2 separate regions of the Homo sapiens genome follow, and region 1 is linked to region 2. The links come from fine-mapping of genetic effects on gene expression. A gene starts in region 2. The other region holds a variant in brackets. All regions are shown on one strand. Distances are between the middles of the regions. Region 1 has its middle 21 kb from the start of TINCR. Region 2 holds the start of TINCR (TINCR ubiquitin domain containing).

Region 1 (4,251 bases), 20 kb after region 2:
GATTGGGGGTTTCTTGCCCCCTAGGAAAGCGGGACTTGCCACTGAGGGTGAAGGAGAAGGGGTTGAGGGGTACTTGCCCCTGCCCCAGGAAAGCGGGACTTGCCACTAAGGGTGAAGGACCAAGGCGGGCGTCCCTGCGTGGTCTGACACCCTTGAAACGTGAGTGTATAATCAGAGAGGCGTCCCTGCAATGATTAAACACCAAGGGAAGGCTGCCTTCCCAGTCCGTGACCGGCGCCGGAGTTTTGGGTTCACGGATAAAACATGTCTCTTTTGTCTCTACCAGAAAATGAAAGGAATTGAAATTAAGAGAAGGGAGAGATTGAAATGTGGCGCCAAGATTGAAAGGAGAAAGAGGTTGAGGGATAGTGAGGGAGGTTGGAGAAGAGAGTAAAAAGAGGCCGCTTACCGGATTTGAAATTGGTGGGATGTTTCCTGGGCTGGTTGGACTGAGGACCTGAGGTGGTAGGTGGATCTTTCTCACGGAGCAAAGAGCAGGAGGACAGGGGATTGACCTCCCAAGGGAGGTCCCCCGATCCGAGTCACGGCACCAAATTTCATGCGCGTCTGTGTGAAGAGACCACCAAACAGGCTTTGTGTGAGAAGCATGGCTGTTTATTTCACCTGGGTGCAGGCCGGCTGAGTCCGAAAAGAGAGTCAGCGAAGGGAGATACGGGTGGGGCCGTTTTATAGGATTTGGGAAGGTAATGGAAAATTACAGTCAAAGGGGGTTGCTCTCTGGTGGGCAGGGGTGGATCTCACAAAGTACATTCTCAAGGGTGGGGAGAATTACAAAGAACCTTCTTAAGGGTGGGGGAGACTACAAAGTACATTGATCAGTTAGGGTGGGGCAGGAACAAATCACAATGGTGGAATGTCATCAGTTAAGGCTGTTTTTACTTCTTTTGTGGATCTTCAGTTACTTCAGGCCATCTGGATGTATACGTGCCAGTCACAGGGGATGCGATGGCCTGGCCTGGGCTCAGAGGCCTGACAGTAGGTATCTAATAAATGCTGTAGCTCACGCCTTTAATCCCAGTAATTTGGGAGGCCAAGGCAGGCATCACTGGAGCTCAGGAGTTCAAGACCAGCCCGGGCAACATAGTGAAACCCTGTCTCTATAAAAACTACAAAAATTAGCCTGGTATGGTGTTGCACACCTGTGGTCCCAGCTACTTGGGAGGCTGGGGTGGGAGGATCACTTGGGTCCAGGAGGTGGAGGTTGCAGTAAGCCGACATTGCACCATTGCACTCCAGCCTGGGTTACAGAGCCAGATCCTGTCTCAAAAAAAAAAAAAAAAAAAAAAAAAAAGCTGCAGAATCTGTGAGTTGACTGCAGGCCTCATTCTGTCCCCCACCTAGCAGGATAAAATGGTGTGAGGATCAGCGGCAGACTCCCTATCTCCAGGCAGATCTGTCTCCCTTAGATGCTGAAAGATGCCAGATGGTAAACGTGTCTCCATTGTAAGAACTGATCTAACTGATCGTCAGCTTGAACTACTTTCTTTTCCTTCAGATTCCGGATTGCTTGATCCTGCCACATGGGCACAGCACTCTCTGGTGGTCGGTGCAAAGGCTGCAGCATTTTAGAAATGCAAATGCCATCAACGTGGGCAATTAAAGATTTCCTGGTAGCCACAAGAAAAAAACAGTAAAAAGAAGGCTGGGCGCAGTGGCTCACGCCTCTAATCCCAGCACTTTGGGAGGCTGAGGCGGGCGGACCTCCTGAGGTCGGGAGTTTGAGACCAGCCTGGTCTCTACTAAAAATACAAAATTAGCTGGGCGTGGTGGTGCACGCCTGTAATCCCAGCTGATTGGGAGGCTAAGGCCGGAGAATCACTTGCACCCAGGAGGTGGAGGTTGCGGTGAGCTGAGATCACACCATTGCACTCCAGCTTGGGCAACAATGAGCGAAACTCCGTCTCAAAAAATAAAAAATAGTAAAAAGAAACAGGTGAAATTAGTTTTAGTAATGTGTTTTATCATTTAAGCATGCAATCTATAGAAAAAATTGTGAATGAGCTATTTTTTCTGGGGTGTGTGTGTGTGTGTGTGTGTGTGTGTTCTGAGACAGAGTTTCACTCTTGTCACCCAGGCTGAAGTGCAATGGTG[T/C]GATCTCAGCTCACTGAAACCTCCATCTCCCAGGTTCAAGCGATTCTCCTGCCTCAGCCTCCCAAGTAGCTGGGATTACAGGCACGTGCCACCACACCTGGCTAATTTTTGTATTTTTAGTAGAGACGGAGTTTCACCATGTTGGTCAGGCTGGTCTCGAACTCCTGACCTCAAGTGATCCACCCGCCTCGGCCTCCCAAAGTGCTGGAATGACAGGCGTGAGCCACCGTGCCCGATCCGATAGTCACATTTTAAGTACTCAATAGCTACATGTGGCCAGTGGCTCCCACGTTGGACAACGCGGGTTTAGGTACATGATCGTCACTTTCCCAGACCAATGCAATCACCTCCCTTCACAATCTGTTGCCGCTGTAGCCCCCAGAAGGGTTCCTGTGAGCACCTGGGTCTGGCAATGTCTCTCCTCTGTCCAGAGCCCTCCATGGCTCCCATTGCCTTCGGGATGAAGCTAGAACTTCTCACCAGTGCCTGATTGATCCTTGGCTGCCCCCACCACCCCTGTTCTTTCCACGCAGCCAGCCACATCCACCTACCTGCTTGCCTATTCCCCCACATCCATATTTGTTGCCCAGGCTGGAGTGCGATGGTGCGATCTCGGCTCACTGAAACCTCCGCCTTCTGGGTTGGGAGAGAGGATCACTTGGGTCCGGGAGGTGGAGGTTGCAGTGAGCTGAGATTGCACCACTGCACTCCAGCCTGGGTTACAGAGCCAGACCCTCTCTCAAAAAAAAAAAAAAAAAAAAAAAAGCTTTGCACGCAGCTCCAATGTCCTCCCCTCCAAGGTCGCTCAGCACCAGCCCTGACTCTGCAGAGCTTGGGTGTCTGTGTCCAGCTCCATCCCACAGTCCCAGCCTGGGGATCCTTGGGGGCAGGGTCCCAGGCTGAGTCCTCTCTGGAGCCTGTACCGTGAAGCACCGGGGCAGGGTTCAGAAGGATGTATCACCACACAACCTTGAAGCAGCTGCCTCTGCTCACTCATTCCTTCACTAATTCACAGGTGCATTCACTTCTGACCTTAACACCTGGGAGCTAGGTCGGGTGTTGGAGGAAGCCGAGAAACTGGAAGATGGGGAGTGGAATTGAGCCTGGGTGACCGTGTCACTGTGAACAGGATGAACAGGATGACGTTCAGGCTCCTTTTCTGGCCTTCAAGGCCTCTCCAGCTTCAAGGAGACAAACTTATTAGTCCATGAATGAGTCACACTCTCCTTCACTTCTCTAGGCTTTTGCATACACAGTAAAGCCCTTTCAGCAGACCCTACTCATACCTAGAAAACTCCTATGGATGCGTCAAAGCCCAGAACAAGTCCTCATACCTACGCTGGGCTTCCTTCAGCCTCAAGTCTCTCTTTCTATTGTAGTCCACATACAGGTGGGGGTGGCAGGAAGTGGGGAAGGTTACTTGATAGATTAGTAGTGTCCCCCATAGACTAGATAAGGGTGGTATAAAGTGGGGAAGGATACCTGATAGATTAATATTAAAGTATTTGTTCTCTAGAGGTTCTCTAGAGGGACAGAACTAATAAGATAGATGTATATATGAAAGGGAGTTTATCGGCTGGGTGTGGTGGCTCACGCCTGTAATCCCAGCACTTTGGGAGGCCGAGGTGGGTGGATCACTCAAGGCTAGGAGTTCGAGACCAGCCTGGCTAACATGGTGAAATTTCATCTCTGCTGAAAATACAAAAATTAGCCAGGTGTGGTGGTGCATGCGTGTAGTCCCAGCTACTTGGGAGGCTGAGGCAGGAGAATAGCTCGAACCCGGGAGGTGGAGGTTGCAGTCAGCCAAGATCATACCACTGCACTCCAGCCTGGGTGACAAGAATGAGACTCCGTCTCAAAAAAACACAAAAAACAAAAATCAGCTGGGCATGGTGGTGTGTGCCTGTAGTCCCAGCTACTTGGGAGGCTGAAGCATGAGAATTGCTTGAACCCGGGAGGTGGAGGTTGCTTTGCAGTGAGCCGAGATTGCACCATTGCACTCCAGCCTGGTCTCAAAACAAACTAACAAACAAGAAAACAAAAACAAAAACACTTCAGAAAGGGTGCTCTGAAGCGGGTTGCATTGTCTCTGGATTCAGGACAGGCAGCAACCCCATCTCAGTGGCGTCTTGGGTTCAA
Region 2 (4,251 bases):
ATGCTTCCCCCACCCCAATAAAGTACCTAGAAGACTGTCTGTCACTTAGCAGGTGCTCTTTTCTTTTCTTTTCTTTTTTGAGACGGAGTTTCCCTCTTGTTGCCCAGGCTAGAGTGCAATGGCAGATCTCCGCTCACCACAACCTCCACCTCCTGGGTTCAAGCGATTCTCCTGGCTCAGCCTCCTGAGTAGTTGGGATTACAGGCACCCACCACCACGCCTGGCTAATTTTTTTGTATTTTTTGTAGAGACGGGGTTTCTCTGTGTTGGTCAGGTAGATCTCGATCTCCCAACCTCAGGTGATCTGCCCACCTCGGCCTCCCAAAGTGTTGGGATTACAGGCGTTAGCCCCTGCACCCAGCCCTTCTCTTTTTTTCCTTCTCTTCCTCTCTCTCTCTCTTTCTTTCTTTCATTCTTTCTTTCCTCTTCTCTTTCTCTCTCTCTCCCTCTTTCTTTCTTTCTTTCTTTCTTTTTTTTTTTTTTTTTTGAGACGGAGTCTCGCTGTGTCTCCCAGGCTGGAATGCAGTGGCGCACGATCTCGGCTCACTGCAAGCTCCGCCTCCCAGGTTCACGCCATTCTCTTGCCTCAGCCTCCGGAGTAGCTGGGACTACAGGCGCCCGCCACCACGCCCGGCTAATTTTTTGTATTTTTGGTAGAGACGGGGGGGTTTCACCGCGTTAGCCAGGATGGTCTCGATCTCCTGACCTTGTGATCTGCCCACCTGGGCCTCCCAAAGTACTGGGATTACAGGCGTGAGCCACCACACCCGGCCATTTTTTTTTTTTTTTTTTTTTTTTTTTTTTTTGCGATAAGTCTCGCTCTGTGGCTCAGGCTGGAGTGCAGTGGCACAATCTCGGCTCACTGCAACCTCTGTCTGCGGGTTCAAGCGATTCTTCTGCCTCAGCCTCCTGAGTAGCTGGAACTACAGGCATGTGCCACCACGCCTGGCTAATTTTTGTACTTATAGTAGAGACGGGGTTTCACCATGTTGGCCAGGTTGGTCTCGAACTCCTGACCTCATGTGATCCGCCCACCTCAGTCTCCCAAAGTGCTGGGATTCCAGGCATGAGCCACCGCACCTGGCCTAAAAGTAAATTTTTTTTTTAATGTAGGCTGAGCGTGGTGGCTGAGGGTTATAATCCCACCGCTTTGGGAGGCCAAGGCGGAGAATCACTTGACGTCAGGAGTTCAAAACCAGCCTGGGCAACACGGCCAGGCCCCATCTCTACAAAAACTACAAAAGTGAGCTGGGCTTGGTGGCAGCGCCTGTAGTCCCAGCTACTTGAGAGGCTGAGGCGGGAGGATCGCTTGAGCCCGGGAGGTCAAGGCTGCAACGAACCATGATTGCGCCACTGCGCTCCAGCCTGTCCTTAAAAAGATCAAATAAAGTGGCCTCCCAGCCTCCCTCCCTGGAGCCTCCACCATGTAACCCCCTGGACATTCGCGCGTCTCCTTGGCTGGGATGACCTCGCTGATGGCTCTGTGCTGAGTGGCCACTCCGCCTCTAGACCCCCGGGCGCACTCTGGGGCCAGCAGTGGGGAGCGGACGCCTGAGGGGACCGTGGCACCCGCCCCGCCCCGCCGGGCCGGGCCTGCCCACTGCGTGCCGGGCGTGTCCGGGCGGGCGGAGCGCGGGCGCGGCGGGGGCGGGCGGCCAGGCTAGTCGGGCGGGTGCGCGGGGCGCTCGGGGCCCGGGGCCAGAGCTGGAGCCGGAGCCGGGCGGGCGCCATGGAGGGGCTGCGGCGGGGGCTGTCGCGCTGGAAGCGCTACCACATCAAGGTGCACCTGGCGGACGAGGCGCTGCTGCTACCGCTGACCGTGCGGCCGCGGGACACGCTCAGCGACCTGCGCGCCCAGCTGGTGGGCCAGGGCGTGAGCTCCTGGAAGCGCGCCTTCTACTACAACGCGCGGCGGCTGGACGACCACCAGACGGTGCGCGACGCGCGCCTGCAGGACGGCTCGGTGCTGCTGCTCGTCAGCGACCCCAGGTGGCCGCGGGGCTCGGGGTGGGGTGGGGCGGGGGCGGCGGCCGGGGACCCCTGGAGAGCGGCGGGGGAGGCGGGCGCCCAAGGCGGCCTCCCGGGCCGGCACTGCTTTCCCACCTCGCGCTGCCCGCCCGGCCTCTCTCCTGACCCGGCCTTGCCGGTGTCAGGTCTTGCTTTCGGGCTCTCTGTCTGTGCCTGTTTCTCTGCCTGTTTCTGTCTCTGCTGTTTTTCTGCCTCTCTCTCTTTTGTCTCTGTCACTCTCATCTTTGTCACTCTCTCGTCTCTGTCTCTCATCTCTGTCTCTTCTTCTTTTGTCTCTGTCTCTCATCTCTCTCCCTCTTCTTTCTGTCTCTTGTCTCTGACTCTTATCTCTGTGCCTCTCTTTGTCTCTTTCATCTCTCTCTTTTGTCTGTGTCTCTCTTTTATCTCTGTCTCTTTCATCTTTGTCTCTCTCATCTCTTTTGTGGCTGTCTCATCTCCATCTCTTATCTCTGTCTCCCTCTTGTTTCTGTCTCTTGTCTCTGTCTCTTTTATCTCTGCGTCTCTCATCTTTGTCTCCTCACCTCTCTCTCTTTTGTCTTTGTCTCTGTCTCTCTCTCCATTTTGGTCTCTGTTTTTTCCTCTCTGTGTGTCTCTCTCCATCTCTGCCTCTGTTTATTTCTTTCCCTGATGATTTGGTTGCCTGTGATTGTCTCTGTCTCTGTCTCTCTTTTCTCTGTCACTCTGTGTCTCTGCCCACTTCTCTCTCTGCTGTTTTCCTCCCTGTTTCTCCCTCATCTCTGTCTCCCTCTCTCTTTTCTGTCTCCCTCTCTGGTCTCTGTCTCCCCATTTTGGTCTCTGCTTTTTTCCTCTGTGTGTGTGTCTCTGTCTCTCTTCCCCTTTGTCTCTTTGTGTCTCTGCCCATTTCTGTCTCTGCTGTTTTTCTCCTTGTGTCTCTCTGTGTCTGTCTCTTTTGTCTCTTTGTCCATTTTTGTCTCTGTTTTTCTCTGTGTCTGTGTATGTGTGTGTCTCTCTCTCCCTGTCTCTCTGTCTCTTTGTCCATTTGTCTCTGTCTCTGCTGTTTTTCTCTCTGTCTCTCTGTGTCTCTGTCTCTGTGTCCCTGTCCAGTTCTGTCTGTGTGTGCGCGCATCTCTCTCTGTGTCTCTGTGAGTCTCTGTCTCTTTTGTCTCTGTCTCTCTCTGTGTCTCTGCCCATTTTGGTCTCTGCTTTCTTTCCTCTGTGTGTCTCTCCATTTCTGTCTCTCTTTCTCTGTCTCTCTCCATTTCTGTCTCTGCTCTTTTTCTCTCTGTGTGTCTCTTTTGTCTCTCTGTTTCTCTGCGTGTCTCTGTCCATTTCTGTCTCTTCCCGCTGTGTATTTCTCTCTCTGTGTCTCTGTCTCTGTTATTTTGGTCTCTGCTCTTTTTCTCGCTGTGTCTCAACATGTGTGTCTGTGTCTCTTTATCTCTCTGGTGTCTCTGCATTTTTCTCTGCTGTTTTTCTCTGTCTCTGAAGCTCTGTCTCTCTCTTCCTTCTCTGGTCTCTCCCTACCGCCTTATCTTTCCCACAGCCCCACTCCAGTGTCCGTTACCCACACTCACACTTGGATATCTGGGTCCCCAAAGAGGTCCCCTGGCCAAGACGACCCTCAAGTGGGGCGTCTTCTGGCCCAAGGAGGGGTCTGCAGAGAAGGGCGCTGGGGCCACGGGAACAGCTCACTGCCGGCCTGGGGCAGCTCTGGGAAATGGGTCGAGGATGGCCGAGAGGTGGTGAAGATGGTGGGGCCTCGTCTCAGAGCCTGGGACCACCTCCTTGGAAGCATTGAACAGGAGAGGGACGGGGGCCATGTGAATTACCCTGGATTTTATGGGGGTCACATTCACCAGCCCTCTAGAGGCTTGAGTCACCGAGCCTGGGTTGATGTTTTGAGGGCAGGAGCCTCAGATGCCACCCCGTTGCAGGAGTCTGGGGCTGCAATGGGGGCAGGAGAGGCCCCCTCCCCAGGCCCTCTTGAGGGAAGATCTTAGCGGGGACGGGGAGGCTGAGAGGATGATGAGGGATGGAGGTTCAGAGCTTGGGGCTAGGAGAGGGTGTTCTCGGCAGCGTACCTTCTATGAGGTCTGGGGGCTGGACGACCCTCAGACGTCCAGACTGTAATTATGCAGTACAGAGTCAGCATTTATTGTGTGCCTACTGTGTGCCAGACTCCATGCTGGACACTGAAATTCAGCAGTGACCCAGAGAGACCAGATTTCGCCTTCACAGAGCCTAGAGCCAAATAATAGCACA

What was found. PIP is the estimated chance that this variant, and not a neighbour inherited with it, causes the effect.
Region 1: its variant is the best candidate, but not a certain one, in a credible set for the expression of TINCR in gastroesophageal junction (GTEx, PIP 0.79).

The regions. Positions count from the first base shown.
Region 1 is chr19:5,545,321-5,549,571 of GRCh38, reverse strand. No RefSeq gene overlaps it. Among named protein-coding and RNA genes, the nearest start is that of TINCR, 21 kb to the left of the region's middle. The variant T/C (reference allele first, on the strand shown) is at 2,113.
Region 2 is chr19:5,565,403-5,569,653 of GRCh38, reverse strand. TINCR (TINCR ubiquitin domain containing) reads left to right here and starts at 1,701. Exons shown (of 3, transcript NM_001396408.1): 1 at 1,701-1,989. The coding sequence starts at 1,730.